Linked DNA regions of Homo sapiens: region 1 is reported to be linked to region 2. The links are microRNA targets in miRTarBase. Many come from high-throughput screens and were not tested one by one. Region 2 holds a microRNA gene; the other region holds the end of a gene's coding sequence.

What was found. Region 2 holds the annotated microRNA hsa-miR-8088 (CCUCGGUACUGGAAAGGGGUA, at 2,323-2,343, opposite strand). A microRNA usually pairs through its seed, bases 2 to 8, with sites in the 3' UTR of a target mRNA and lowers its output. Matches are read on the target gene's strand: a 7mer-m8 pairs with bases 2 to 8, a 7mer-A1 pairs with bases 2 to 7 and ends in A, and an 8mer does both.
Region 1: the mRNA of PABPC3 is a reported target of hsa-miR-8088. Seed matches in the 3' UTR shown: 7mer-m8 at 953-959.

Annotation. Positions count from the first base shown.
Region 1 is chr13:25,097,292-25,101,626 of GRCh38, forward strand. It overlaps PABPC3 (poly(A) binding protein cytoplasmic 3), which reads left to right. Exons shown (of 1, transcript NM_030979.3): 1 at 1-1,963. The coding sequence ends at 803. All of the region lies in intron 1 of LOC124900613 (a long non-coding RNA gene), which reads left to right. Among named protein-coding and RNA genes, the nearest start is that of PABPC3, 3.3 kb to the left of the region's middle.
Region 2 is chrX:52,334,290-52,338,694 of GRCh38, forward strand. MIR8088 (microRNA 8088) reads right to left here and starts at 2,353; the gene lies at 2,268-2,353.

The DNA of each region.
Region 1 (4,335 bases), not on the chromosome of region 2:
TAGCTTTAGCTCAGCGCAAAGAAGAGCGCCAGGCTTACCTCACTAACGAGTATATGCAGAGAATGGCAAGTGTACGAGCTGTGCCCAACCAGCGAGCACCTCCTTCAGGTTACTTCATGACAGCTGTCCCACAGACTCAGAACCATGCTGCATACTATCCTCCTAGCCAAATTGCTCGACTAAGACCAAGTCCTCGCTGGACTGCTCAGGGTGCCAGACCTCATCCATTCCAAAATAAGCCCAGTGCTATCCGCCCAGGTGCTCCTAGAGTACCATTTAGTACTATGAGACCAGCTTCTTCACAGGTTCCACGAGTCATGTCAACGCAGCGTGTTGCTAACACATCAACACAGACAGTGGGTCCACGTCCTGCAGCTGCTGCTGCTGCTGCAGCTACCCCTGCTGTGCGCACGGTTCCACGGTATAAATATGCTGCGGGAGTTCGCAATCCTCAGCAACATCGTAATGCACAGCCACAAGTTACAATGCAACAGCTTGCTGTTCATGTACAAGGTCAGGAAACTTTGACTGCCTCCAGGTTGGCATCTGCCCCTCCTCAAAAGCAAAAGCAAATGTTAGGTGAACGGCTCTTTCCTCTTATTCAAGCCATGCACCCTACTCTTGCTGGGAAAATCACTGGCATGTTGTTGGAGATTGATAATTCAGAACTTCTTTATATGCTCGAGTCTCCAGAGTCACTCCGTTCTAAGGTTGATGAAGCTGTAGCTGTACTACAAGCCCACCAAGCTAAAGAGGCTACCCAGAAAGCAGTTAACAGTGCTACCGGTGTTCCAACTGTTTAAAATTGATCAGAGACCACGAAAAGAAATTTGTGCTTCACCGAAGAAAAATATCTAAACATCGAGAAACTATGGGAAAAAAAATTGCAAAATCTAAAATAAAAAATGCAAAATCTAAAATAAAAAATGGAAAGGAAACTTTGAACCTTATGTACCGAGCAAATGCAAGGTCTAGCAAATATAATGCTAGTCCTAGATTACTTATTGATTTAAAAACAAAAAAAAGATTACTTAATTTTGATTTAAAAACAAAAAATCGTAAAATACAAAAACCAGTTAATGTTTTGTAGACCCTGGGAAAAGAATTTTCAGCAAAGTACAAAAATTTAAAGCATTCCTTTAATTTTTTAATTCTTTACTGTGGAATAGCTCAAAATGTCCATTCTGTTTTAAGTAACAGAATTGATAACTGAGCAAGGAAACATGGTTTGGATTATAAAATTCTTGCTTTAATAAAAATTTCTTAAACAGTGAAAAAAAGAAAAATCATCAATTTTACTAATAGTCTTTCTTTACATTTTCTATTATTCTATCTCCCACTATATTTCAAATATGAAAATCACTTTTTCACCAAAATTTTAGGTCTTTACATAATAGTGTTTATTTTTAATATTCATAAATGAAAATATGCAATGACAAAATAGTAATTATAAATTCAGTAACATTTGTTCAAAATTGTAAGACAATTATTAATTTATACTGCATTATTTTTAAATAAAAAATAAATACATAGTTTTAAAAATCTAATTGAACAGGAGGCTAAACATGGTTCTGATCACAGAGATAATCACTTTTAATCATTTGGTTTTAGTGTTTCTGGTAGTTGATTTTCTTCAATAATAATTGTACATAGTTATTTCTTGGTTTATCAATTTTGTAATTTAACTATTGACTTCCTGCTGTAACAAATAAGGATATGTTTCATCTACCTCTTCCCACCATCCCTCCTCCTCCTCCCAATATAATTTATCACTACTTGTAGCTCCTTTATTGGTAATATTAATTAATATAAATATTTATAATTAATGTTACACCTAGTGAATTGTATAAAAGGACAGCCCATTTGAGCATTCTCCTTTAAGATGAGTAGAGGCTGTGACATTGCACTACATAGAAATATAATTATACCATATTACTTTGCAATAAACTATGTATTATAGAGAGATGGTCACTATGTAATGTGGGTATAGCTATACACACACATACACACAAACATATAAATAATGTGTGTGCATATATATAATATACACACATGTATGTTATACACACACACACATATGTATATATATATACATATATTATATATATATAAAAAATACATGCTGTTTATTCATCCCCATTTTGGGGGCCTGTAGGTAAATTATGGAGAAATCCCTTATGGTTAAAGTTAAATGATTTTCATAACTCATAAAATTAGAATGTTCATATTTGAAAAAAATATAAAGATGTTTTGAGGTATATTATTTACTCACTGACAATGTCTGATGTATACGTGGTCCATACAGCAGGGCTTCAGTCCTCAGATGTTGCCAGTTTCCAGGTTGTTAAATACAAGTTTGCTGAAGGTCTTGTCATAAGTACCCCAATAGTTTAAATAGTGTCTTCTTCTTTTTTGTTTTATTTACTTTATTTAGAGACAGGTCTCACTGTCACCCACACTGGAGTGCAGAGGTGCGATGTTGGCTCACTGCAATCTCTGCCTCCTGGGCTCAAGCAATTCTCCCACCTCAGCTTCACAAGTAGCTGGGACTACAGGCGTGCGTCAACACACCAGGCTAATTTTTTGTATTTTTTGTAGAGACAGTGTTTGCCATGTTGCCCAGGCTGGTTTCAAACTCCTGAGCTCAAGGGATCCACCCACCTTTGCCTTCCAAAGTGCTGGGATTACAGGTGTGAGCCACCACGCCCGGCCTTATTTTTAAAAATGGGTTATTCTCGGTTTAGCAATCTTTCTGTTTTTTTTTTTTTTTTTTTTTTTTGAGACGGAGTCTCTCCCTGTGGTGGCGTGATCTCGTCTCTCTGCAAGCTCCACCTCCTGGGCTCAAGCCATTCTCCTGTCTCAGCCTCCCAAGTAGCTAGGACTACAGGCGCCTGCCACTACACCTGGCTAATTTTTTTTTTTTTTTGTATTTTTAGTAGAGATGGGTTTGCACCGTGTTAGCCAGGATGGTCTTGAACTCCTGACCTTGTGACCTGCCCGCCTTGGCCTCCCAAAGTGCTGGGATTACAGGCGTGAGCCACCATGCCTGGCCAGCAATCTTACAATTTAACCTTCTATTGACTTCCTGCCAAATTAGATTATAAGCTTCCTAAATACAGAAACTGGGTTTGCATAACAGACAATTAAATGCTTGTTGATTGGTCAACATCATATGTCCTGAGGAATTTCATATACTTAACAATCAAGTGCTTAAATTCTCATAACACTTCTCAGAATAGCTGAGGGAATATTGGTGTGAGTGTGCAATGCTATTCTAGATGATGTGGGACAAACAGAAAGAAATGATCTCCAGTCCACACTCTTGAGAAGTGCCCCCTATCCTGGACGACACACACGTCCACAAGTAGCTCCTGGCCATATGGAGGGATGAGCAAAGTATAGGGGGAAGCACAATGTACCCAGCAGAGAGATCTGGGAAGACCTTGTGCATAAGATGGCTTGTGAGCCGAGCTTTCAAAGATGAGTGGGATTTTGAGGATAGTCAAGAAGAGAAGAGGAGTCCGAGGCCAAGGGAATTTGACTAAAGGCAGATGTTTCACCAGATTTGACAATGCGTTCCATGGAGTAGTGTTGCCTCTGAGAAGCAGCTGCTTGTTTAGAGGCTGTGTGTCCCAGCTCCTTTCTGCATCAGGACAGGGCATGTCACTAGCCCTTACCCAGGGGATGTTAGTGGGAGTGATGCATGTCTTTCAAGGCAAGGCAGTTAAGAAACTGATGGGCTCTCCAATGTCACTTTCCCCATCCACTGGGTGAAGAACATTGCAATTCCTTGAGAGAGGAGCCACAGGACAGAGGGAGTGTGCATGTGTGTGTGTGTGTGTGTGTGTATATATATACGTATACACACACACATATATATATATATAGAGAGAGAGAGAGAGAGAGATACGGTCTTGTTTTGTCTTCCATATTGGAGTACAGAGGTGGGATCATAGCTCACTGTAGTCTTGAATTCCTAGGCTCAAGCAATCTTCCCACCTCAGCCTCCCAAGTAGCTAGGAGTAAAAGCACACACCACCATGCCTGGCTAATTTATTTTATTTAGTTAGTTTGTAGAGACAGGAGCCTTGCTATGTTGCCTAGGCTGTTCTTGAACTCCTGGCCTTAAGCAATCCTTCTGCCTCAAGCCTCCCAAAGCACTAGGATTACAGGTGTGAATCATCACACCCAGCCTAGGTATATTTTATTTTACATAAAATTACAATGTTTTATATAAAATATGTACATTACTGTATTTGACTTGAATGTTATTACAGTCAATTATTCAAACTTGAATTAAGTCCAACTGCCTGATCAGTGATACATTAAAATATC
Region 2 (4,405 bases):
TGTTTCTAGCTGTATTAGAGTTTTAATCATAAGTAGATGTTGGATTTTGTCTACACTTTTTCTGCATCTATTGATATGATCTTGTGATTTTTCTTTAGCCTGTTTCCTCACTGTATTTTATGGAGTGTACAATTGAATTGGAAGTTATAACAAGTTGGTGGTCTGAGTGCAATAGATTCTGCTTGGAGTTATAAGTCACTCAAATGATGATTTTATTGAAAATTAATGTGTTATTAAAAAGCGGCAGTGGAGGGCTTCACTGAAGACCAGAAATTATGAGCAACAATTGAAACATGGAAAAAAATATATAATCTGCTACAATACTAATATCTGTAGATGTAATGAGCATGGTCATGTGACTACTGACACTCCTACTCATCTTAATAGGTACAAATCCTTGGTCTTCTAAGGCACCACAAAAAGTAACACTGGAAATGAACATTACTGAGTATTTAGTATGTGCTGGGAACACTTTAATACCTTGATTTGTTTAATCTCCCAACAGTATCTTGTGAGGTAGATGACTCCAAAGCAAAAGACCACTTACTTGTGCTGCCTGCCTATTTTATACAGATCCCTCTGTAACATTGTCATTACCAAGGGAAGACCAGGGGTCTGAATCCTAGCTGAATCTATCATCCCTGCAGTGGTTGTTACCATTAAAAAGTCTGCACTGAAAGATCTCAGGCTTCCCTCTATTATGCCAATCACACAAATACCTTTATATCAGCAAAGAAACTCTCACAGACACTGCACAATCTTGTTTAAGTCCATCCATCCATCTCTCCATCCAGCCATGCATGCAATCATGACTCTATCCATCTATCCATCCAAGAAATATACTTTAAGAGCTTCAATAGGCCATACTCCATTAAAAAGCCTCAGCATCATTCTATAAGGCAGATCAACGGACTCTCTAAAGGGACCTTCTTCCTAATTTTAACACTATGGTTCTCTGTGACCTCCTCCGGGCCCGAATGCCACCTTTAGGCATTGTGTGACATGTTTATCACCAGCTCATAAATAAAAGCTTGCAGTTGCATGATGCTTTTAATGCATCTATTTGGCTGCCGAATCACTGGAATTCTCCTCACTGACCAACATCCGAGCACTAGAAAATATACAAATGATGTAAATGCCACATACCCACTTGAGTAGTGCTTCTTAACTCAATATGCATCACACAGCAGGAAGAATAATAACTAAAGTTTTGCTTGAAAAAGTACAATTTGGGGATGAATTCTCATATGTAGGTTAAGACTTCCGTGTATTGGACCACCATCTCTCCATCTATTCATTCATTTCCTAATATCAGTGAGTACATTTCCGTCCCTATTTATCTAGGTCTATCTTCTTTTTTGGACCTAAGCTACTATAAATGAAAAGCAACATGTTCAACCCACCTCTTACTCTGGTGTTCAAGAGTTGTCATTTCAGCATCCGCTGAACTCAAGAGCAACTACACAAGATAACAAAATCAGAAGAGCCAGCAATGTAATATTACAGTTTTTAGTTTTCATTTTATTTTTTTAATTTTCATTTTTATTTTAAGTTCTGGGGTACATGTACAGGATGTGCAGGTTCGTTACATAGGTAAACGTGTGACACGGTGGTTTGCTGCACCTATCAACCCATCACCTAGGTATTAAGCCTATGGTGATTCCTCACTGATCTAGAACCAGAAATACCATATGACCCAGCAATCCCATTACTGGGTATATACCAAAAGGAATATAAATCATTCTATTACAAAGATACATGCACGCGTATGTTCACTGCAGCACTATTATGACTTTTTAAAAGAAATGGGGCTTCATCTCTCAGGTGAGACAGATTTAGTATAGAGTTTACTCTAAATAAATAGTTGTGCATGAGGCTCTAACTGTAATGCAAATGTCAAAATCAGCCTTGAAAGAAAGGGTAGGTAATAATTTTTAAAAGACAAATCTTGCCTCTTCATCTTTCATGATCTACCATGTGCCTACATTCCCGCCTCATCCCAGGCGTCCCCAATGTACACATTTGGGACTTATGCCACAGTCACTGTGATCCTCTAGGGAGCAATGAGTGCTCCTGAGTACACATGTGTACACGTGTCTCTGCATGTTCAAGGACCCTTGTGACAAACACATCTATTGAGAGTCACGATTCCATGTCTGTGGGTGGCCTCCCTTGATACATCCTGTCTTAGTTTCCACTCCTTTGTTTGTTATTCTCTGGAGTCAGATGGATTAGGCTTCAGATTCTCAGGTAACCAACTATGGATCTGAGCTGAGTGACCCAGTGCCGATAAGAAGAATGTTGCCAAAACAACAGAATCCATACCCCTTTCCAGTACCGAGGCCCTCCTCCCTCCCCCTGCCTGCTTGGATCTCAGGTGAGAATGGGAATGTGATGTGGCTAAGAGTGAGGGGATAGATATGTGGTAGAGGGTTCGAGGAGAGAGGTGAAATCTTGGGGTCCCCACAGAAGGGACTAGGGGAGGGACCAGAGATGCCAAGAAAGCCTGCTCCTGGGCACTGAGACCCTAGGAGATGACTATGAAAGTGCAGTGGTTCTAACATGTGGTTCTATGAATTTCCCCAGCAGTACACAGAGCTGCGAACATTTTCTGACTCTAAGCTCCAGGGCTCAGACCATGGGAAATGAGGCCTGTGTTGGCAAAGGGCAGTGGAGCCTGGAATCACTAGTGGAGGGCAGCTGCAAGCCTTGAGGAGGCCCTGCTCACCTCAGCAATAACTCTCATCAGTAACTCCACTCTGTGTGTCTCTCTTCTGGTCTTCTCTTTCTGTGCTCTGTTGTCAGGGTCAATATATAGCAGGTTAAAATTGTCCTGGGTTAAAGGAGAAGAAGAGGCAAGGATGTCCCAATCCCCTCTTCCACTGACTGATAAGACAGTGGGCAGAGGGGGAGCTGGAAGAGATGGTATGCAGAGACCACAAATTAATTCGTGCTTCTCAGACCAGACGGGGGTCTGGTGCATTTACTTGCTAAGGCTGATTTGATTTTCATTATGAGTGCATAACCTCTGTACTGGACAGTAAGGTGAGAAAATACTGGAGTTATGTCTAATCTGGTGTCAGCTGATGCTATCATGTGAATGGTCCATTTGTATAAATGCTCAGCCTGTTTTGCTGAAAATGATCAGTCTCTCAGATTTCCACCCCACCTCCCTACTCCTTTCCAAGACGATTAATGGTGTGTATGGCTTTCGAGTCTTCATGGTGATATGGGAAGGGGCCTATGACATCTTATGTTGACTGCAGTGTCCTTAGTTGTTTATGAGGGAAGGCTCAATCTTCTCTCTCAGGTTCTGCTGACGATGCTGATTTGCTCACCCATTTCTCTGGCTGGTGTAACTTGCATTTTTGTCTCTCTCATTTTGGTCAGGATCTGGTGCTCCCTGGCTGACTCAGCCTCAGCCCACCTGTGCTGGCATCAGCAGACCCCTCTGAATCGGGGCCTCATCCTCCTTCCCACATCTGGGCAGGGCTGTCCATAGCACAGCCTCAGCTGCAGGGTCACCTAGCACCTATCTGGGTTATGCTTGCTTCATGGTAACACTCCTGGCTCTTGAATCAGCCACTTCCACATTCCCTTCTCAGAGAATGTAGCGCCCTGCAGGAACAAAGATCAGCTCCAAAAACTGAAATTCTTGAACTCCAGCCATTTCTCTAACCAAGGATCTTGCTATTTATTTCTGCAGAAGTAAACTGAGTCCTAAATTTCAGCTGGGCAAAAAATCTCTTTATTTGGGACTCCCTTCCACTTCTCTGACACACCTGTCACATGTAAGATAAGGCCCATAGAAGAGAGACTGTGATGAGAGTCTCTTACCTCCATCTGACACTGTCTCCATGCCTTCTACACCCCCAAGGCTGGAACAGAACACTCTTTTATTTTCTTTATCTTTCATGTTGACATAAGGATTCCCATAGTAAATCCAGATCATAAAGGGAAGTCTTTAGGATTTGTACTTTCTCTTGTAGAATTCAAATTCATTTGAAATGTTTGAAGGAAATTGACTAACAGATAAAGAAACTCAAAATGGAAGGGATTACCAAATACAAGTCAATACATCATCAGTAGCAGGGCAAGCTCTCTGTAAAAATAAACTTGGAGTTCAAAGGGAGTTGTATTAGTCAGGGTTCTCTAGAGGGACAAAACTAATAGAATATATATATATATATATATGTGTGTATATATATATATATGTGTATGTATATATATATATATGTGTATATATATATATATATATATATACACATATATATATGAGTTTATTAAGTAGTATTAACTCACACAATCACAAGGTCCCACAATAGGCCATCTGCAAGCTAAGGAGCAAGGAAGCCAGTCCAAGTCCCAAAGCTGAAGATCTTGGAGTCCAATGTTTGACGGCAGG